Linked DNA regions of Homo sapiens: all the other regions are linked to region 1. Evidence: fine-mapped QTL for protein levels in blood plasma. A gene starts in region 1. Each other region holds a variant in brackets. All regions are shown on one strand. Distances are between the middles of the regions.

Region 1 (9,142 bases):
GGCATTTAGGACAAATACAATGCTGGGCAGCCATCACCTTTATCTAGTTCCAAGACATTTCATCACCCCAAAACAAAACCACCTCCTCATAAGCAATCACTCCCCATTCTCCCTTGCCACATCCCCTGGTAACCACTCGTCAACCGTCTGCCTCTACAGGTTTACCTGTTCTGGATGTTTCATATAGATGGAGTCGTATGACATTTTGCTACTGGCTTCATTGACTTAACACAGTGTTTTCAAGGTTCATCCACAGTGTAGCAGGTACCAGTATTTCATTCCCTTTATAGCTGAATAATATTCAATTGTATGGACACACCACATTTTGTTTAGCTGTCAACTGTTTCCACCTTTTGGCTACTGTAAATTGTGCTGCGTTGAATATTTGCGTGCATGTATTTATTTGGGTCCCTGTTTTCCATTCTTTTGGTTTTACCTAGAAGTGATATTTCTGGATCATATGACAATTCTATGTTTAACTTTTTGAGGAATTGTCAAACTGATTACCATAGCAGCTGCACCATTTTTCATTTTCACCAACATTGTACAAAGGTTCCAATTTCTCCACATCCTCACCAACACTTGTTATCCGATTTTTTTTATTATGATGATCCTAGTAGATATGAAGTGGTATCTCAAGGTGGTTCTGATTTGCACTTCCCTAATGACTAATGATATTGAGTATTTTTTCATGTGCTCTGGAGAAATATCTATTCAATGTTTTGCCTGTTTTTTAAAAAAATTATTTTAGACTCGGGAGTAGATGTGCATGTTTATTACATGGGTACATTGCATAATGGTGAATTTGGCTTCCAGTGTACCCAGTACCCAAATACTGAACACTGTACCCAATAGGTAATTTTTCACTTCCTTTTTGCCCTTTCCCCTTTCCTTCTATCCTTCCACTTTTGGAGTCTATTCTTTCCATCTTTATATCCGTGTGGACCCTTTGTTTGGCTTCCACTTATAAGTGAGGACATGCAATATTTGAATTTGCCTATTTTTAAATTTAATTGTTTTTTTGTTGTTGTAGGCAACACTACAACTTTCATTCTTTTTTAAAATTTATTTTCCCATAAATATTTATTAATTGTGAGGGACAATAGAGTGGCTTTAGCTACATATTGCGTGATTCTACATACATTCTTTAGCTACACACTGTATGATTCCATTTATATGACATTATCCTGTAAAGCACAAAGACATTGTGGAAAAGGCAAAACTGCAGGGATGGAGAACAGATCCGTGGTTGTTTGGTGTAAGGGGTTTGGGGAGGGCTTTACTATAAAGGAGCAGCATGAGAAACATTTTCTAGAGTGATGGAGCTGTTCTATATCTTGACTACAGTGGTGGTTACATTGTTATATATATTTGTCAAAACTCATAGAACTATGCACCAAGAGTGATTTTTGCTGAGGAAACACTACAACTTTCATTCTGTATATATTCTGGATATATTTATTTATTGTGGATATAAATATTCATTCTGTGTGTTTTTATTCTCTTGACAGTGTCCTTTGATGCACAAAAATGTTTAATTTTTATTATGTCCAATTTTTCTTTGGTTGCTTGTGCTTTTAGAAACATATCTGAGAAATCATTTCCAATTCCAAGGTCATGAATATTACCTTTATGGTTTCTTTTAAGGTTTTAATAATTTTAGCTTTTATATTTAGGTCTTTAATTCATTTTGAGTTAATTTTTATATGTGATGTAAAATAAGGATTCAACTTCATTCTTCTGCATGTGACTATCTAGTTCTTTTAGCACCTATGTTGAAAAAACTGGTCATTCTCCATTGGATGGTCCTGCCACCCTTGTTGAATATCAGTTGTCCATGAATGTGAGAGTTTACTTCCTGACTCTCAATTTTATTCTATTGATCCATATAGTTATTCTTATGCTGATACCACACTATTTTGATTTCTGTAGTTTTATAGTAGGTTTTGAAATTGAAAAGTGTGACTCCTCCAAGATTGTTTTGCATATTCAATGTCCCTCGAGATTCCATATGAATTTGAGAATCAGCTTTTCCATTTCTGCAGAAAAAGGCTGTTGGGATTTTGATAGGGATTATATTGACCCTATAAATCAGTCTCACTTTGAGAGTACCGCTGTCTTATTAAATCCTCCAACTTATGAAAACAAGGTGGTTTTTCATTTATTAAGGTCTTCTAAATTTCTTTCAACAGTGTTTTGTAGTTTTCATTGTAAAGTCATGCATCTCCTTAGTTTATTCCAAAATATTTTATTTTTGATACTATTGCAAATTAAATTGTTTTCTTAATTTCCTTATTGGAGTATTATCAGTACTATAGAGTTACGTATGTTGATCTTGTATCCTGCAGGTTTGCTGAATTTGTATATTAACTCTAATAGTTGCTTTTTGTAGATCTTTTAGGATTTATCTATATATAGGATCATGTCATCTGTGAACAGAGATAGTTTTACTTCTTCTTTTTTAATTTGGATGCCTTCTGTTTCTTTTTCTTCCTGATTGCTCTGGCTAGGACTTCCAGTACTATGTTGAACAGAAGTGGCGAGAACAGGCATCTTTGTCTTGTTCCTGATGTAAAGGGACCAGCTCTCAGTCTTTTACCATTGAATTAGTTGTGCTTTTTCACATGTGCCCTTAATCACGTTGAGGCTGTTCCCTTTTATTGCTAGTTTGTTGGGTGGGTTTTGTTTTGTTTTGTTTTTAATGAAAGCATGTTGGGTTTTACAGTTACATCAAGTGACATGATCATATGAGGATTTTTTTCATTCTATTAATGTGATGTATTACCCTGATTTTCATGTGTTAAACCACTGTTGTATTTCTTGGACAAATCCCACTTCATCATGGTATATAATCATTTTAATATGCTGTTAGATTTGGTTTGCTGGTGGCTGGGTGCAGTGGCTCACGCCTGTAATCCCAACACTTTGGGAGGCCAAGATGGGCAGACTGCTTGAGGTCAGGAGTTCAAGACTAGCCTGGCCAACATGGTGAAACCCTGTCTCTACTAAAAATACAAAAATTAGCTGGGCATGGTGGCGCATGCCTGTAATCCCAGCTACTCGGGAGTTTGAGGCACGAGAATAGCTTGAACGCGGGAGGCAGAGGTTGCAGTGAGCCGAGATTGCTCCACTGCACTCCAGCCTGAGTGACAGAGTGAGACCCTGTCTCAAAAAAGAAAGAAAGAAAGAAAAAAAAAAAAAGATTTGGTTTGCTAGTACATTTTTGAAAATTTTTGCTTTCTATATTCATGCATTTGTATTGGTCTGTAGTTATCTTTTCTGGCAATGTCTTGGTCTAGCTTTGGTACCAGAAAAATGCTGGCTTCATAGAATGAGTTGAAAAGGATTGGTATTAATTCTTCTTTAAATGTTTGGGAGAATTCACCAGTGAAGCCATCTGGTCCTGGGCTTTGCTTTGTCGGGAGGTTTTTGATTACTGATTAAATTTCTTTTCTTGTTATAGGTTTATTTGGATTTTCTTTTTCTTCTTGAGTCAGCTTTGATTGACATTCATGATTGCTAAAGGTTCAAAACACTTTTCTGAAAAAGAAAGTACATATATACACTCATAAATATACATACAAACACACACATACACACCACACACACACCTGAGTACACGGGAATGATCATTTTCCTGGATCAATGTTATATCAGGATTTTTCAATTTCAAGAAGGAACTTTAGGCTGGGTATAGTGGCTCATACCTATAATCCCAGTACTTTGGGAAGCCAAGGTATGCGAATCACTTGAGCTCAGGGGTTTGAGACCAGCCTGGACAACATGGTGAAACCCCATGTCTACCAAAAATACAGAAATTTGCTAGGAATGGTGGCACATGCCCCTGTAGTCCCAACTACTCAGGAGGATGAGGTAGGAGGATGGCTTGAGTCCGGGAGGTGGAGGTTGCAGTGAGCCGAGATCACACTACTGCACTCCAGCCTGGGTGACAGAACCAAACCCTGTCTCAGAAAAAAAAAAAGAAAAAAAGAAGAAGAAATGACCATGTTCTTTAGAGATAAGAAGTAAAATACTAAGCGAATCAACTAAAAGAGGTAAAAGCAATTGCCTCCAGGAAAAGAGGGAGCAAAGGAATGCTATATATTTTAAGAATTATGCAGAACAATTAGATTCTTTGTAAAAATAAATAAACAATGTAAGTAACGCACAAAAGATAGTTTTATAACCAGACTGCTGGGATCCAAATCCTATCTCCACCATTTGGTAGCTGTTTGACTATGGACAAGCTTAAGGCATTTGATCTCTCTGAGCTTTAGTTTTCCCATCTGTGAAATGAGAATGACAATAGTACTTACCTACATAAAGTTTTGCAGTACTAAAGGAGACAGTGAATGTAAAAGGTTTGGCTAGTAAATGTCCTGTAAAAGGAAGCTTATTGCCAATATTATCAGGCTCTCCCAGACCAACCTGTATACAGGAAGAAAACAAACTCCGTTTCTCCTATAGTCTCACAACACAAAATACTTCTGACCCCAGATGTAGAGGATGGGGCATATTTCCCCATACACCAAGCAATCAACCAATTGTTCAGATTCTGCAGCAGACACGAATCTGGTGCCCTCCGATTCAATTTGAACACTATATTTACCTAGAGATAACGTCAGATCTCACAGCTTGAAGGCTTGAGCCAGGAGTTTGAGGCTGCAGTGAGCTATGATCGAGCCACAGAGCTCCAGCCTGGGCAACAGAGTGAAACTGCGTCTCTAAAATAATAATAATAAATTTTTAAAAGATATGCATTACTTTGGAGATTCCAAGGATTTTAGGAGTTGTAAGCCAGGACATCAGGGTAAAGAAAAAATATATATGTCACAATATCATGCAACCTAACTTCTCTTTGGGATCTGCCAGAGCCACCTGATCACTCTGAAGACCCTCATTTGTGCTACTGACTAACGGTCTGGCTGCTCTTGGACATGTCTCTTCTCCCAAGACCCCTTGAAGATGGCTTTAGAAGGGCCCCAAACTTAGCTAGCTCCCCCCAAGCTCAGGCTGGCCCTGCCCCAGACTGCGACCCCTCCCTCTTGGGTTCAAGGCTTTGTTTTCTTCTTAAAGACCCAAGATTTCCAAACTCTGTGGTTGCCTTGCCTAGCTAAAAGGGGAAGAAGAGGATCAGCCCAAGGAGGAGGAAGAGGAAAACAAGACAAACAGCCAGTGCAGAGGAGAGGAACGTGTGTCCAGTGTCCCGATCCCTGCGGAGCTAGTAGCTGAGAGCTCTGTGCCCTGGGCACCTTGCAGCCCTGCACCTGCCTGCCACTTCCCCACCGAGGCCATGGGCCCAGGAGTTCTGCTGCTCCTGCTGGTGGCCACAGCTTGGCATGGTAAGAGCAGAACGGGGGGTGGGGGACTTTGTTGGGGTGTGATGGAGAAGACCCCTGTGAAAGGATTCAGTCCTTGCCCCTCACTGGGTGTCCTCAGGCTGTTTTAGTCTCCCCAACACTGGACTGCAGGCTTGTGGGTATCTGCTTTGGAGAGGTAGTGGGGTGAAAAGAGATGGGTGTGGTGGAACTGGTCCACCTGGTGCTGTGGATCTGTCCCAGCTCTGCCAGCGACTCACTGTGTGTCCTGAGCAAGCCTCTGATACTCTTGAGGCTTCAGTGTCCACTTCTATTCAATTGCAGGTGTTGGGGGCAGGGGGACAGTGATAGACTAGACCAGAGCAGTGCTTTTCATACTTTCCTGTGCATACAAGTTACCTGAGGATTTTGTTACAATGCAGATTCAGACTCAGTCGGTCTCAGGTGCGACCTGAGATTCTGTATATCCAACACACTCCTGGGAGATGTGAGATGCCGGCACTGCTGGTCCAGACCTACACTGAGTTGGGAGGACCTGGAGAGCTCCTGATGGCTCTGGCAGCTCTGCCAGCCTGTGATTCGATGATTCTATGCAAGATCTGATTTGGAAGGGCCTGATAGGGGTGGTGGTTCTTCCTTGGGTGGCTTGTGTAAGGGGTCAGAGGGGAGAGACAAGAGGTTGGCCTCTCTGGCCCAGGGCTCAGGAGAGGGGAATTCGGGGTGAAATAGGTATAGGGCTAGAGGAGGGATTGGGAAGAGGCCAGTGAGGGTCTCCTGGACCAGAGCCCTCCCAGACACAGGCTGCCAAGTCTCAGGAGGTCCCCAGGCTGTAGCAGTTCTGCAGAATTTCCATCTGGGAGGGAACATGACTAGAGGTGAGGGGCTGCTGTGCTTGGCTTGTTGGCCCAACAAACACATTTCTATTGCCTGCTTATTCAAAGGGACCTTGGGGGAGGATGGGGATTGAAGGGGAGAAAGGACAGCCTCATACTGGCCTCTTCACAGAAGGACCCTAAGGCCGTGGCGCTTCTGGTCCCTGATGAGGAGGAGATGGCCCACTGACCATCCTTCTCTGGCCCAGGCAATCACACTGAGCTTGAGTATTTGGGTTTTTTTTTTTTTTTTCCTGAGACAGAGTCTCTCTCTGTCACCAGGCTGGAGTACAGTGGCACAATCTCGGCTCACTGCAACCTCCACCTCCCGGGTTCAAGTGTTTCTCCTGTCTCAGCCTCCCAAGCTGGGATTACAGGCATACACCATCATGACTGGCTAATTTTTGTATTTTTAGTAGAGATGGGATTTCACCATGTTGGCCAAGCTGGTCTCGAACTCCTGACCTCAGGTGATCCACCTGCCTTGGCCTCCCAAAGTGTTGGGATTACTGGTGTGAGTCACGGCGCCCGGCCTGGACTTCTTATTTTGCAATGTAACTTACATGCAGTAGAAAGCACAGGTTCTTAAGTTCAATGAGGTCTGACAAATGCACACACAGTGTACCCGCCACCCCCTTCATCTCAGAGAGTCCCACAGGTTTGATTTCACTGCCTTGTCCTATCCTTACACCCACAACCTGCCTGTGGGGCAAAAACGGAAAAGTATCTGAGCCAGGTCTCAATTTAATTTTATTTTTTTTATTGAGATGGAGTCTTGTGGCCAGGCATGGTGGCTCACACCTGTAATCCCAGCACTCTGGGAGGCCGAGGCGGGTGGATCACAAGATCAGGAGTTTCAGACCAGCCTCGCCAATATGGTGAAGCCCCCTCTCTACTAAAAAATACAAAAATTAGCCGGGTGTGGTGGTGGGTTCCTGTAGTTCCAGCTACTCAGGAGGCTGAGGTGGGAGAATCACTTGAACCCGGGAGGCAGAGGTTGCAGTGAGCTGAGATCATGCCACTGCACTCCAGCCTAGGCGACAGAGCAAGACTCCATCTCCTTCCTTTCTTTCTTCCTTCCTTCCTTCCTTCCTTCCTTCCTTCCTTCCTTCCTTCCTTCCTTCCTTCCTTCCTTCCTTCTTTCTTTCTTTCTTTCTTTCTTTCTTTCTTTCTTTCTTTCTTTCTTTTTTCTATCTTTTTGAGACCGAGTCTTGCTCTGTTGCCCAGGCTGGAGTGCAATGGCATGGATCTCGGCTCACTGCAACCTCCGCCTCCGGGGTTCAAGCAATTCTGCCACTCCTGAGTAGCTGTGATTACTGGTGCCTGCCACCACACCCAGCTAATTTTTTTATTTTTGGTAGAGACAGGGTTTTATCATGCTGGCCATGCTGGTCTCGAACTCCTGAACTCAAGCGATCCCCCTGCCTTGGCGTCCCAAAGTGCTGGGATTACAGGCATGAGCCACTGTGCCTGGCTTCAATCAATTTAGAAGTTTATTTTGCCAAGGTTAAGGACATGCTGGCGAGAAAAAAACATGGAGTCACAAAAACATTCTGTGGTCTGTGCCATTCTGGATGAATTCGAGGGCTTTAATATTTAAAGGGGAAAGTGGGCTGGAGGGGAAAAGGGGAGGTTGTGGTAATCCACATGTTGCAAAAGAAAAGCAGCAGGTAGGGGAACAGTCAATTATCTCGGTTCAGTAAATTGGCTCTTTACATAGGGAAAGTGAACATAGAGGAGCTGCCTGTGGGATATTTTACCTTTTATCTGTCGCTATCTGCTTAGGAATAAAAGGCAAGGCAGCTTCTTGCATGACTCAGTTTCCAGCTTGATTTTTCCTTTTGGCAGAGTGAATTAGGGTCCCAAGTTTTTATTTTCCCTTCACAGGGGCATGGTGTGTGGGAGGGGGGCCAGATGGTTTTCCAGGGTCCAGTCCCAAGAGAAAGAAGAGATGGGGAGGCTGGAAACCTAAGTTTTCAGCCCAACAGACCAATGATGAGTGGATGAGGGGCCACTGTGAGGAGACTGGGGATGGTATTGGAGGACCCTAGAGAGAGAGGGGGGCTCTCTCTTCATTACTGCGATGAGATCCTGGGCTGAAGAGGGGCTGTGTCCAGCCTTAGTGTGCAGTGTGTGTGTGTGTGTGTGTGTGTGTGTGTGTGTGTGTGTGTGTGTGTGTGTTGGGAGAGAAGAGTAGAGATTGGGGCACATTCTGGAAGTGATGAGGGAGGGGCTTCCAGGCAAGTGGGAGCTAGTGGAGAGGTGTGGGGCATGGGGAGAATTGGGGAGTGGAGATGAGAGGGGGGAAGAATGGACAGGCACAGAAGGGGACCTCAGTTAATGTTCATAAGCCCATGCCCCCACCCCGAGGAGGATGGGGGCCAAGCCGGCTTCCTTCCCTGCTAGCCAAGCCAGCAGGGGAAGTTGGCTGCGGAAGTTGCGGGTATCAGCCTTATCCTGCGTGAATACCTGGGACAATAGGATAGGACAAAATAGGGCAGACACCGCTCCCTGACCACATTTCCTGGAGGCCAAGGCAGGGTCTAGAGAGACAGGCTGGGGGAAGGGATGGGAGAAGCCCACTGTAAGGTGTGAGGCAGGTGTAAAAAAGGAACAAATGGAATCACAGAATCCAAGGTTAAAATCTTGAGCGATCAGAGTTGGCCCAGAAGGGACATTAGAAATGTAGCAATTAAAGCAGGTGCCCAGGGCAGGAGTAGTTCTATACATCATCTCACTCAACCTTCAGCTGAAGTTTTTGGGGTGGGAGCTGGGATTATTCCCATCAGACAGAAGAATAGCCTGAGGCTCAAAGAGGTTAAGAAACTAACCCAGCTGGTAAGGGAAGAACCAAGATCCAAACCCAAGTTGGTGTGAGCCCACACTCCAAGCTGTTTCCTGCTATAAAACCCCGGCCTGGGGGCCCTAGATTGCTGCAGCAGTGATAGGGCA
Region 2 (5,849 bases), 23 kb after region 1:
GAGGCTCAGCAAGGTTAAAAAAAAAAACCCCAAGGGGCTGAGGGATAGGGTTGGCACTGGGCCCCAGGGGCTTCTGTCCCTAGAGCCCATGGCCTCCACTGCCTGCCTGCCCACACAAAGACCATGTGCAATGTGATCAGAAGCTGAGAGGACCAGGCCAGAGGGCTGTGGGAGTTCAGAGGTGGACGGACTTTTCAGGCTGGTGGGTAAGGGAGACTGCCTGGAGGAGGTGGCTTGGCATTGGTGGGACGGGCTTTGGAGGATGAGGATGCAGCAGGGGAGATGACACTAAGGGAAAGGGTACCTCTGGGGGAGAGGGCAGAGTGTGCAGAGGTGCAGGTGAGGGAAGGACCAGGGTGGGGTTGGGGGTCTGAAGGGTTGGACCCCACCCTGTCGGTCCAAGGCCATCAGTGGGTTTGAACAAGGGAGTGGTGTGATCAAGGACTGAATGACCCATCTTGTGTCCCCTTGGCTACCTTTTCTTCCCCACACCCCCTTGGGGCTTTTGTGAGAAGAGGGCTTGAAGTGGGCAGGGTGGGAAGGATGTTGGGGGAGCCCCAGGGGCACATGGATCGGGATCTCTACTCCTGCCAGCACTCAGCATGAGAAGGCTGCTCTGAGGGCAGCCCCGGTCAATACCTCCGGATCTAGGTCCAGCTCTGACACTGTTTTGCCATGTAACCTCAGCTGACTCGCTGTCCTCTCTGGGCCTTAGTTTCCCCTCTTATACCATGGGTCTGGGTGTTCTCTAACAGCCCCTCCTCCTCTGACATGCCAAGAGCCCACTGGTGGTCTAGTTTAAGCACCAGAAACTTGGACTTCAGTGAATCTGGGTCCAAATCCTGCCTCTGCCAAGCTCTGGCTATGGGATGATGAGAAAGTTGGTGTGTCTGAGTCTCTTCTCCATTTGTAAAATGGGATCATTAACAGCCTGTTGTGAGGGATTCCGTACCACAACGCACATAGAGGACTGAGCGGGGTGCTGGACGAGACAGTCTCTGTGATGGGAGCTGCACACTCTTGTCCCAGGAGGAAGTTCGTTGGGGAACCAGAGTTAGCTCATGCCTCTTGGGATGGTGGAAGGAGGGGGAGGTCTGAGGTCGGGCATCATCTCCTTGACTACACACCCAAAGCGGTTGTTTGGCCCAGCCCACCCACCTCCAGGGACAGGACCTTACTCACTCTCGGGGCCACCTGTTCCTTCTCTGAGCAGCTCCAATGTTTGCAAAGTTCTTCCTTACATGGAACTGAAAACTGCCTCGCAGTGCCCACAGAGCTGCCAGGACAGTCATGCAGAGATTCCAGAGAAGAGCCTAGGGCCCCCTGCGGCCCTTTCTGCCTTGGGCTGGCCAGCCCCCTTGGCTGTGGTTTAGGAACTCTGTATCCCCTCTCCACGGGACCATTTTTGGAACATGTCACCTCCACACTTCCTGTCCAGGAAATTCAGCTGCCCCTGGAGCCCATGCAAGGCTGCGAGAAGACTTGCAGCTACCCTCCTCCCCTACACCCATTCACAGACCCTTTAGCTCCAGGCCGAGGTGTCCACCCATGGGAGCGGAGGGGGCAGGATGGTCATGCCCGTGCTAAGTGCCTGCCCTCCCATCCTCCTCTGCCTTGCCCCATGAGGTTCGGAGCCTTGCCCCTTCACTGGGGACTCAGCCCAGCCTCTCCTCATTGCCCAGGCCTGGGGAAAGAAGTGGCCTGTCTGTGGGGAGTGTTTGTTCTGCCTCAGGGCTGAATCATCACCTTTCTGTCCCCCAGAGTGACCACAAGGGGGGCCGTGGGGGAAGAGAAAAGGGCAGGAGTCAGCAGGCTCCCCTGGAGGAGGAGGCGCACAGGGAAATGGCTGAGGCAGCAGGGAAGGGAGGGTCCAGGGAGGCTGCTGGAAAGACTACGATTCTGGGGGCTGGAACTGAGCTCTGAGGAGCAACAGGAGGGTCCCCAAAGATTCCACTGGGAATTGTTCAGATCTCCACCTTCCTGGGATGGAGAACATCCACTCACCCAGAACCAGCAGGCCTAGATGGGGAGGGGACCGGGACTTTGTCTCCATGCCCCCTTTGGTGGGGAGGATGGGAGGAAGGGAAGAAGTCAGGGGGTGGGCCTGGGGCTTAGGCCCATTGCAAGGAATGAATGGGGTGATGTGCTTCAAGCATCTAGCCCAGCGCCCCACTCCCAGGAAGAGCTCAGGAAGAACCCGCTGCCATCATGACAATTACGTCCACCCTTCTCAGGGAGCCTCGCCCATCCCCACCTCTTGATCTCTCACTCATAGTTCTTTGGAAGAGAGGCTGCCTCTGGGTAGACGCCCATGAGCCCTTTCCAGGGATGGCACAGGTGCCCTGGGAGGTTTACATGCCCAGCAGGGGCAGGGGAGGGTTCCTGAGGCAGGCAGAAGGCAGCTTGGTCCGCTTCCAGAAATTAGGAGCCTAGGATTCAGAAATCTGAGAATCCAGCCAAACCTCCATCCTCCTTGATCCCCTCCCTTTCAACAGTGCCCCCTGCCCAGCTGGGGGCAGGGAGGGGCTGACTCAGCCCAGCTGCAGAGGGACAGAGGAACAAGAAGTGGTAAGAAAAAACAGTCTTAGCCACAGAGGCTCCTAGAGATGGAAGTGGCCAGGAGAGGCTGAAGAATCCCCTCCTTGCCTTGTTGCTGTCTTTTGGGCTGGGAAGGCACCCACGGGCAGGATTTGGATCCTCAGAGGCTTGGGAAGTTCTTCTCCCTGGGTCCCGTTTCAGACTCTCTCCCAAGCTATAACGCAGAGGCTCTGAAGTTCACCTGCAGTCCGCCCTTCCGAATCAGAGCCTGGAAGTTAGTTCCTTCTCATTTCTAATTGCAGTCTTTTCTCTCTAACTACCAGCTAGAAGTTCTTCCTGATGGTTAGCTGGAAGCTTTCTCCCTGTCTCTCTCTTTAAAAATGTCCACATTTTATTTTTGATTCAGGGGATAGACGTACAGGTTTGTTGCATGCGTATGTTTCGTGATGCTGAGCTTTGGAATATGGATCCCATCACCTGCTACTGAGCATAGCTCCCATAGTTTTTCAACCCTCGCCCGCTTCCACCCTCCCTGCTCTAGTAGCCCCCAGTGTCTGTTGGTGCCATCTTTATGCCCATGCACACTCAATATTTAGCTCCCACTTATAAGTGAGAACATGCGGTATGTAGGTTTTCTGTTTCGGTGTTAATTTGCTTAGGATAATGGCCTTCAGCTGCACCACGTTGCTGCAAAGGACATGACTGGAATCTTCTCTCTCAACCAGGACTTGCAGCTAAAGGCCAGCCTCCTCCCTAGCACCGGTCCACACTTCCTTTAAGTTTCTAGCTCGGGTGCCCAGGGAAGGAGCCCAGCTGCAGGCACAGCCAAGCTTGTCCCATCCCCAAGGCCTGGCCGGAAAGAGTTGCTCTGCTGACCCAGGGCCTCAGTGTCCTCCACCGCCCCAGCCCAGCTTCCACTTTCCCCCTCAACTTGGTCTTCCATCAGCATTTCTT[G/A]TGGGCAACCCTTAGCATGGTACTCCCCCTCAGCAGCTGACCCCTGGGCAAGAAACAGGGGCAGCCATTCCTCCTCCCCACATCCCAGGGCTTGCCTCCCCTGGCTGGGTGGTAACAGCATGGAGAGCCTAAGGAAGGAAATCAGGTCTTTCCAAAGGTGCTGGTCCTCCAGAATCTATCTAGTGGGCAGCGTCTCTCTTTCTCTCTCAAAAAGGTAAAGTCAAGGCTGGGTGCGATGGCTCACGCCTATAATCCCAGCACTTTGAGAGGCCAAGGCAGAAGGATTGCTTGAGCCCAGGAGTTTGAGCCTAGTGAGCTATGATCGTGCCACTGCACTCCGGCATGAGTGAAGGAGCAAGACTCTGTCTCAAAAAAAAAAAGTCAGATGGCGACTCACCTGTGTCAAACTCTCAGGGTCTCTCACTGCCCGGCCAGGCATGGTAGCTCATGCCTGTAATCCCAGCACTTTGAGAGACCGAGGCAGGCAAACTGCTTGAGCTCACGAGTTCAAGACCAGCCTAGGCTGCGACAAAGCCCCGTCTCTACAAAAATTAGCCAGGTGTGGTGCCACATGCTTGTAGTCCCGGCTGCTTGGGAGACTGAGGTGGGAGGATTGCTTGAACCTCGGGGGTCGAGGCTGTAGTGAGCCAAGACTGCCCCCACTGCATGCCAGTCTGGGGGACAGAGATCCTGTCTTGGAAAAAAAAAAATCCCAAAAGGGAACCCACTCACCTTATCATAGCCCTCAAGGCCTTCCTGTTTCTGGAATCTGCCCCCCACTTCCCTCAAGCCATGATGGCTGCCTTCCTATAGCTCAAACTTGCCAGGATCATTCCCATGTCAAGCATACAGCATTTCCATGCACTGTTCCTGGAAAATTCTTCCTCTGATGGTCACATGGTGGGCTCTTTAGGGGCCTTCCCTGACTTATCTTACTTTATTTTCTTCATAGCACCACTTGAGAATCTCCTAGATACATGTTTATTTGCGTTTAATGCCTCTCTCAGCCACTAGAATGCAAACTCCATGGAGGGGCAGGGACTTTGTCCTGTTCAACTCTGAATCAGCGGTGCCTGACACAAATAGATGTTCAAGAAAGTATGTGGATGGGCTACTATTATTCAGCCTTAAAAAGGAAGGGAATTCTGACCTGTGCTGCAGCATGAATGAACCTTGAAGACATTATGCTGGGTGAAATAAGGCAATCTCAATAGACACATGCTGTGTGAGTCCACTGAGGTGCAGTGCCTAGAGCAGTGCAATTCACAGAGACAGCAGAATCATGGTTGCCAGGGGCTGGAGGAGGGAAAGGGGAGTTGCTTTTTAACAGGAACAGAATTTCAGTTTTGCAAGATGAAAAGAGCTCTGGAAACTGGTTGCACAAGGTAGAATGTAATTTACTTAATACTACTGAACCATACACTTAAAAATGGTTGAAATGGTAAATTTCATGTATGTTTTATCACAATTAAAATATATATATATATTTGGATGGGAGGTTGGGTGGGTGGATGGATGGGTAGATGGATGGACAGATGAACGGATGGATAAGATCTCAAGTTCCACCCTCCCTCCTGGCTCAGGAATTACCAGATTATCAGAGATATCAGGGCCCTCAGAGGTTGTCTTGTCCAAGGTCTTCAATACACAAATAGTGAAACAGGCTTGGAGAAGGGAAGGTCACACAACAAGGCAGAGTCAAGCAGGAACATGCTCTCAGTGCTATGTTCATGAGACGACCTCTCTCAGCCCAGAGCAGGCCTTGCCCTGCCTTCTCCCACTGGGCGCCTTGGGACTGCCCACACCCCTGCTCTTGGGGGTCAGAAACAAGGTCCAGGAACTGCCTGCCAGCCCCGACTGCCACGTGCTCCCTTCCTCTTCTGCAGAAGCCCAAGTACCAGGTCCGCTGGAAGATCATCGAGAGCTATGAGGGCAACAGTTATACTTTCATCGACCCCACGCAGCTGCCTTACAACGAGAAGTGGGAGTTCCCCCGGAACAACCTGCAGTTTGGTGAGATGGCAGCTCATCACTCCACAGCTTCCTATCACAGGGCCTGTGGGGGTTGCAGGGAGCCCATGGGCCCTTGGACAGAGGCCCTTTGGTGCCCAGGGACTTAAGGGACCTGTGTGCGTGGCAGGTAAGACCCTCGGAGCTGGAGCCTTTGGGAAGGTGGTGGAGGCCACGGCCTTTGGTCTGGGCAAGGAGGATGCTGTCCTGAAGGTGGCTGTGAAGATGCTGAAGTGTGAGTGAGGGGAGGGGATGAGGGAAGGGATGGGGGGTGGTAGATGCTGGGGGTGGGCTGGCCCTGGTGTCACAAGAGGCATCACACACATTTCAACCTGTTGAAGCCTGGG
Region 3 (8,000 bases), 15 kb after region 1:
TAACAGTAACTGCCTTCATAGATAGAAGATAGATAGATTAGATAGATAGATAGATAGATAGATAGATAGATAGATAGATAGATAGATAGATAGGAAGTACTTAGAACAGGGTCTGACACAGGAAATGCTGTCCAAGTGTGCACCAGGAGATAGTATCTGAGAAGGCTCAGTCTGGCACCATGTGGGTTGGGTGGGAACCTGGAGGCTGGAGAATGGGCTGAAGATGGCCAGTGGTGTGTGGAAGAGTCTGAGATGCAGGGATGAGGAAGAGAAAGGAGATAAGGATGACCTCCAGGTCTCTGGCTATGGTGATTGGGTGCAGGCAGTGGCAGTCACTGGACTCAGACCCTGAAGCAAGGCAGCAGCTCATCGGAGTGGGAGCAGGCTCTGAGACATTTAGGTCTGGCCGTGCCTCATGTGTTGAATGTTATGGGAGATGGAGGTGGCGAGGAGCATGAGAATCATGAGCATCACTGCCCCTAGAGTATGTGCAAGGCACTGGACTTGCAGCAGATTGTGAGCTCTGCTGTGGACCCCAATCTGCACTGGGAGCTTTGGCAGGGTAAAGGGGAAGAAGAGCAAAAGCACAAGAATTCAGTTACGGCTTCTAATCCTGTCTGCTTTCTAGTACAGGCATACAGTCATCACTCAAGAAATGTTTATGTTCATTCACACTTTGGGCCAGACACTGTTCTAGACATCGAGGATACAGCTGCAAGTGAAACAGATACAACAACCCCCGACTCATGAAGTGTGTGCTCTAGCTGGGAGTGGGCAAGCAATGAGCCAAGTAAATTATTAAAAAAACAAATTATATAGCATTTGCAGCTTCAGATAGGGTGTTCACCAAGGAAGATCTCACTAGAAAGCTGATATTTGAGCAAAGGCTTAAATTGCTGAAGGAGCAAGCCATGCGGCCATTTTGGAGAAGGGAGCTCCATCCTGCAGCGGGACTGTGCTTGCCATGTTCAGGGGACAAGTGGGCCAGTGTGGCTGCGGGGAGAGAGTGAGAAAAAAAGTGGTCTCAGATGAGGTCAGAGAGCTAAAGTGGGAAGGTGAGATGAAAGGAGGCTACCGCAGTGGTCCAGGCTGGAGCTGATGGTGGGTGGACTAGAGTGGTAATGGTGAAGGCAGCAGGAAGTTGTTGGTGTTTGGATGGATGAATGGACTAATGGATGGATGAATAATAGATAGATGGATTGTTGAGAGAGACAGAGAAGAGAAAAGCCTTGCCCCCAAAAGCTCACAGACTACTTGGAGAGAGAAGAAAGCTACCTGGAGGGAGAACCAGATGCATGAAGCAGTGCAGATGTGGTGCCTAATGAGTGTGTAGTCTGGAAGGGCAGCAAAAGTCGAGTGGAGTGAGAGGTTCCTGTGTCCTGGAGCACTGAGTAGAGACTCCCTCATGGGGGTGAATCTTAAAGGATAAAGGGGCCTCTATAATGAAAAGGAGGAGGATGGGATTTCTGGTAGAGGAAATTGCTTGAGCAAAACCTCCAAGGTTGGAATGACTATGGTGTGTTCAGGGATGTTAGGAGACCCAGATGGGTGGAGCGTTGAGTGTGTGTGTGTAGGAAGGAAGAGGGGAGGTGGCTGGATGAGCACAGTGAGACCTGATTTGATTGAGAGCCTTGAACGCCACGCTGAATAATGGAGGCAATGGGACTCCATAGAGGGCTTTTGAGTAGACATATATCAGTGTAGAAGGGTGAATTTCAGATTTTTAGACAGAATAGAGTAAGGAGAGGAGCTCTTAGAAATCATCTAGTCCAGGGCTTGTGGCAGAGCCCTGAGGTTTTAAGAAGGCATGTCAGGGGCTACCATGACAGGCACGGAGAGGCTGAGTGAATTGGGGTTCTTGCCACAATTCCCTTGCCTGAGATTCAACAAGAGCAGCTGTATTACAATCTGTGCAAAATGTCATTAGGAGAAACTAGTTAGTAGCTGGGCGTGGTGGCATGCAACTGTTGTCCCAGCTACTCGGGAGGCTGAGGCCGGAGAATCGCTTGAACCTGGGAGGCGGAGGTTGCAGTGAGCAGAGACTGTGCCACTGCACTCCAGCCTGGATGACAGAGCAAGACTCTGTTTCAAAAAAAAAAAAAAAAAAAACTAGTCAGGACTCTTTCAGATACAAGTAATAGAAACCAACTCAAACTGGCCTAATTAAAAGGATTTTTTTCCTTATAGCTAAAAAGCTCATGGATATCAGCTTCAGGAACACTTGGATCCAGGTGTTCAGCTGATGCTGGAAAGAATCTATGACTCCCCAACTCTCAGCCCTGCCAGGAAGGCTTTCCCCTTGTAGGACTCCGACTATCCGCCTTGTAGTATCTGATCCAGCAACACCAGTAAAATGAGGGCTTCTCTTTTCCCAGAGTCTTAACAAAAATCATGGAATTGAGTGTTATGGACTCATGGATTCATGGTAACCCAAACCAATCACCGGGCCAGAGGGGACAGAGTACCCTCACTGGTTGGCCTGGGTTACACACCTACTCCAGAGCTATATTTGGAAGCCGCATTGACTAATTTATGACCAGAAGAAAGGGAAATGGATGAGGACACGTGAAATTGTGTGTGTATGTGTGTGTGTGTTTTCTTGCTGCCAAAAATTTTTCAAAAACTTGGAAAATCACAGATATATTCAATCTCTTCATTACACAAATAAGGAGATGGAGGCACAAATGGGGATAGGGATTTGCCCAGGTTCTCCTAGGGCTTCAGTGAGAAAAGTTTTGATCCAGGGATTCTGAAGGGGGTGGTGAGAAGAGGGGTGTCAGAGGACCTGTCTTGGGTGGTGGGGACTATGTACCTGTGACATAGCTGCTCAGGGACTGGATCAATGGGTGGATGACAAAATGGACAAATAAACAAGGACATCTTCCCACTAATGCCAGATGCTTGTGTGTTCTGCTTTCCAGAGAGTGCCTACTTGAACTTGAGCTCTGAGCAGAACCTCATCCAGGAGGTGACCGTGGGGGAGGGGCTCAACCTCAAAGTCATGGTGGAGGCCTACCCAGGCCTGCAAGGTTTTAACTGGACCTACCTGGGACCCTTTTCTGACCACCAGCCTGAGCCCAAGCTTGCTAATGCTACCACCAAGGACACATACAGGTACCACTTATCAGCTCCCGTCTACACAGCCCGACAACCAGATGGGGTATGCTTCAGCAAGCATCAGGACGCTTGGCTCATGTCCCAACCTTGGTGTATGACCTTGAGCAAGTCCCTGCCCCTTTCTGGGCTTCGCTTTCCCTGACTTCATGGAATCCCAATATTGGTCATCTGTGTTTGAGATCTAGATGAAATTGACCTACCTCTCCATCCCACATCCTTGGGATAGTCAATGCCCCACCCAAGGATTCTACCATTTCTTGGGAGTGTGCATTCTCATTGGTCCCTCAAGAACCCTCAGCCTCATTCATTTTCCTCTCTTGGGGCCAATCCAAATGCAGAAAACAGCCCCACTCATAGACACACTCCTGATAATGACTGCACAAGTTATCTGCTACATACAAAAGCTTGGAGGGAGGGGAAGAGGGAATTAAGATCACACAATCACAGATACATGAAATGTTCTTTAAAGGATTGTGATCACCCAGCCCCAAGAATTTCTCACTGGCTGCTCTTCTCTGTAAGCTCAAAACTCTTCCCATGAAGTGCAATCTATAATAACTCCACACCCCTCTTCTTCCGTCTCTCCACTCCCACAATCCTGTGTATTCCACACACATTTTAGAAATCTTTTTCCTGTCTGCTTGTGAACTGTGTTCTTGGGGTCTTGCTTTCTCATCCAAAGTGGCTTAAGCAGGTAGGTTCTAAATAAGAAAGCTTTGTGCCTAAGAGGAACACTCATACCAGGTATATCAGGTATTAACTCAGGTATTAAAATAGTTCCTTCTTTTCTTTCTTTTTATTATTTTTTTTAGATGGAGTTTTGCTCTTGTTGCTGGAGTGCAATGGCACAATCTCGGCTCACTGCAAACTCGGCCTCCCGGGTTCAAGTGATTCTCCTGCCTCAGCCTCCCGAGTAGCTGGGATTACAGATGCCCACCACCACACCCAGCTAATTTTTGTATTTTTAGTAGAGACAGAGTTTCACCATGTTGGCCAGGCTGGTCTCGAACTCCTGACCTCAGGTGATCTGCCTGCCTCGGCCTCCCAAGGTGCTAGGATTACAGGTGTGAGCCATCGTGCCTGGCCTGAAATAATCATTCATACCCTGCCCTTTCAGAGGGAGACAGTACAGCTTAAGGGCAGCGAATACGTGGTGTGCATGCCACACTCACTCTCATTCTTGTTTCTGCAACTCTGTTCTGCAGAGTGTAGATGCGGCCTCAGAGTCCTCCTCAACACAGGTCCCAGGCAGTATTTCCAGCATAGTTGGCTCATGAGAGATCTGTTTGTCATCCCTGTGTGGATCCCTTAGACAACTTCAAAACTCTTTGGGATTCTCGTTCTAGCTCTGGAAGCCCAAACCTCATTGATTCCCACAATCTTGCTTGTCAATTGTCAGAAGCAACAAGGATGTTTTCTTGTCCTCATCTTCCTCCTCTCAGTTCCCTTCTGGTCCTTTCTGGCCAGGTCTCTGTCTTCCTCTCATTTAAAGCAGAAGTTCTGAATCTGGAATGTGTAGGCCCTTTGGAGGGGGCTGGTCCATGGATCGGTTTAATGGGTCCATAAGCCACAGAGACATTGAGGAAAGGAACACGAGATCCCCTAAAACACAGTAGTCTGGGCCCATTCAGCACAAGGCAGACAAGCCTGGACACCAAACAGCCACAGAATTTTAGTTCATGTGATGGGTTGTTCATAATGGTGACTTTCAATTATCCAAAAAAGTCAAATTATTTTTAGTTAAAGGGGTTAGTTATCTCAAGAAGTGACCTGGGCAGAGGCCTTGTATATGCCCAGGGTCTGGCTGGATGAGACTGCTCTCTGAATACCATAGATTTTAGTCTAGTAGTAGCTGCAGACATTTCCCAAGCAAGAACTGGCCATTTGCTATAATTTTTAAAATTTTATTTATTTTGACAGTGAACTGGGGGACTTTTTAAAAAATGTATTTATTACCTAAACAACACATGTTCATTATGGACAAATTGTAAAATAGAGATTAAAGAAAGAATAAAACAAAAAATTTCCCAGAATCAGCCAAAGATGATTTTTATTGTTAGTTTTTGCTCCAGGGCCTTTTCTGTAATAAAGGGTACCATTGAATTGAGTGCCCACAAAGATTCAACTTCTGTGTCAAGCACCCTAAAAAGGTCCTTTAATCCTCAAGCCAAGCCTGTGAATTAATAACCATCGATATCACTCTCACAGCAAAGGAAGTGAGGGATCAGAGAGGTTAAGTACTTGTCTAAGATCACACAGCCAAGAAACAGCAGCACCAGGACTTGAACCCCAGTCTCTGCAGCAACATGGCTCAGAACCCAGGGCCCTACATCCTGCCTCTTGTCTCTTTCTCAGTCCCTCTTGGCAAGGTTGGCACTTCAGGGATTTGTAGCAGGGATTGCAGCTTTCATGAAAGCTTAGTCCAGTGACAGTGGTCAACGTAGGCGACCTGTGATAGGCCTCCCAGCACCTTGAAGACATCACCTCTATTAAACCTCGGGAAAAAAACACTTTCAGATAAGAAAACCAACTAAGGAAATGGGATTGGTGGTTTTTGCATGTCTCAATGGCACCCTGTCTGAGTATCTGGCTTACCCAAGGCCGTTGGGCCCTGAATATTTTACCAAAAATAAAATAAACCCCTTTAAGGCTGTTATCTGACTGCAATCCTGGCAGGGGCCATACTAGGCTGGGGCTCACCAACACCACCTGATTCTCTCCTGCAGGC[A/G]CACCTTCACCCTCTCTCTGCCCCGCCTGAAGCCCTCTGAGGCTGGCCGCTACTCCTTCCTGGCCAGAAACCCAGGAGGCTGGAGAGCTCTGACGTTTGAGCTCACCCTTCGATGTGAGTGCTGGGGCCGAGCGCCACCTGGGGCGGAGGCCCTGGGACTGCCTGGAGGGATGGGGTTGACTGGGGCAGGGCACAGGGAAGTAGGTACTGGGAGATTGGGAGGTGGCGGGGAAAGTGTGACTTGGGGCCTCCTCCTTTCTTCCTCAGACCCCCCAGAGGTAAGCGTCATATGGACATTCATCAACGGCTCTGGCACCCTTTTGTGTGCTGCCTCTGGGTACCCCCAGCCCAACGTGACATGGCTGCAGTGCAGTGGCCACACTGATAGGTAAGTGGGCTCCACTCACCTCCCTCACCTGGGCTCAGGGGCTGGGCACCCTGTGAGTGGGAGGGACATGCTGGCGCTGGGAACCCTGAAGCTCTGAGCCACATTCTGCTTTTGCCAGGTGTGATGAGGCCCAAGTGCTGCAGGTCTGGGATGACCCATACCCTGAGGTCCTGAGCCAGGAGCCCTTCCACAAGGTGACGGTGCAGAGCCTGCTGACTGTTGAGACCTTAGAGCACAACCAAACCTACGAGTGCAGGGCCCACAACAGCGTGGGGAGTGGCTCCTGGGCCTTCATACCCATCTCTGCAGGTGAGAGGGAGCCTTCGCACCCGCACCGCCCCCCCGCCCGCCCCCCGCCCCTGCTCCTTTAGGCGGCTCCTCCCCCACCCCCCACCGAGGGAGCTGGGGTTGGCTCCACCTTTGGAGCAGATCCTAGCAGTACCAAGGTCCACCTCTCTGGGCCAGTCCAAGCCCCTCCTGCCTGGCAGGTCCCCCGAAGCAGTAGGACGGGGTAGTCTCTGAGAAAGCAGAGAGAAAGCAGCCTGAAGAAACTGGCCCCCACTCTTGTCCCTGCACTCTAACTCATGCATCTATTCACAAGTATGTGCAGGCATTATGCACCGTGTGCCAGGGACGTGCCCTATGCAGGGAAGCAGTGCCTCCCCAGAGCTCAGAGGCTGATGAGGGAGGCAGGCAATGAGCAAGGAAACAGTCCATCTCCAGCTCGGGGCCAGCTAAGGACGGCCTTCTCCAACTCTCCCCTCTTGCTCCAGACACAGTCTATCCATTTGAGGTTGCTGTGCAAGAGGCTGCCCCGGGGGATGATGCCCGGCCCTGTGCACAACACAGGCTGCCTCTCTGCTTTACACAAAGGCTCCTTACCAGCTAGTTCTGTGATTCTCAGAGGCCCACAGCATCCTCAGGCTTTTGACAACCAGGCTCTGGCACCCACTGTGTGCCAGACCCTGGCATCTGCCTGGCTCAGGGGTGGTCACTCACGTCCCCAGCTGCTGGCCTTGGAGCAACTGCTACCAGGGTCCAGCTGCAAGCAGGAGCCTGCGGCCGCGCTGGGCCTCACTGCTGGAGGTTGTATATTATAATAAAGCCAACATTTTGTTGAAGGCTTCTGCTGCGCCAGGCACTGTGTTAAGCTCTTTGTGGGGATTATCTCGATTAACTCCTACAAACCTAGGAAATAAATAGAATTTTCCCTAGGCTCAATGTCACACAGCTCCCAAGTGGCACAGGTGAAACTTGACTGCAGATCTAAGTTACTGATCTGAGCAAGGAAGTGGAAATTATGTTCTCCAAAACATCACTAGAACTAGTAGTATAGATTCTGGGAAGAGGAGACTCAGGGGCCACAAGCCTGGCTTGCTAGACCCTCAGAAGGGCTGTATGATTCCAAAGGCATGTGGAGAAGCTGCAGGGGAAATGCAGGAGAGGAAGGTTGCAGTGTGACCTCCAGAAGGCCTTTCTGAACGAGCTTCCTGGAGGTGTAGTGCATGCAAGCCATGGCTGGGCACCAGGCCAGGCCGCTGCAGAGAGGTTTCTTGCACTGGCAGAGGGTGAGACTGCATGACCCCAGAGGCTCCCTACCCCCAGCCACAGGAGGCTGTGACTCTGGACAGGGTTTGGGGCTGGGCATGAGCAGAGCTGAAGAGGCCGTCCTCTCTGCCTTTCTCGGGGAGGGTGTGCAGGAGAGGCTCCAGAGGCTTCCAGTGGAGGATGCTTCATTCAGTCAACAAGCATTTATTGAGCACCCAC

Evidence for each region. PIP is the chance, under the fine-mapping model, that this variant and not a neighbour inherited with it causes the effect. Protein levels are from antibody-based Olink assays in UK Biobank. Linkage for the fine-mapping came from a reference panel and not from the study's own genotypes, which makes the PIPs less certain.
Region 2: its variant is fine-mapped to the plasma level of the CSF1R protein (UK Biobank, PIP above 0.99).
Region 3: its variant is fine-mapped to the plasma level of the CSF1R protein (UK Biobank, PIP above 0.99). The variant lies in the coding sequence of CSF1R. If it changes the protein, the assay may bind it differently, which can mimic a change of level.

The regions. Positions count from the first base shown.
Region 1 is chr5:150,082,579-150,091,720 of GRCh38, reverse strand. It overlaps CSF1R (colony stimulating factor 1 receptor), which reads left to right and starts at 5,167. Exons shown (of 21, transcript NM_001288705.3): 1 at 5,167-5,342. The coding sequence starts at 5,294. RefSeq lists an enhancer at 5,080-5,109 and a promoter at 4,862-5,294.
Region 2 is chr5:150,061,379-150,067,227 of GRCh38, reverse strand. CSF1R (colony stimulating factor 1 receptor) reads left to right here. Exons shown (of 21, transcript NM_001288705.3): 11 at 5,379-5,505; 12 at 5,633-5,737. Among named protein-coding and RNA genes, the nearest start is that of CSF1R, 22 kb to the left of the region's middle. RefSeq lists an enhancer at 218-267 and a silencer at 2,218-2,393. The variant G/A (reference allele first, on the strand shown) is at 3,493.
Region 3 is chr5:150,068,415-150,076,414 of GRCh38, reverse strand. CSF1R (colony stimulating factor 1 receptor) reads left to right here. Exons shown (of 21, transcript NM_001288705.3): 6 at 2,922-3,114; 7 at 5,844-5,959; 8 at 6,113-6,233; 9 at 6,352-6,542. Among named protein-coding and RNA genes, the nearest start is that of CSF1R, 14 kb to the left of the region's middle. RefSeq lists an enhancer at 7,768-8,000. The variant A/G (reference allele first, on the strand shown) is at 5,846.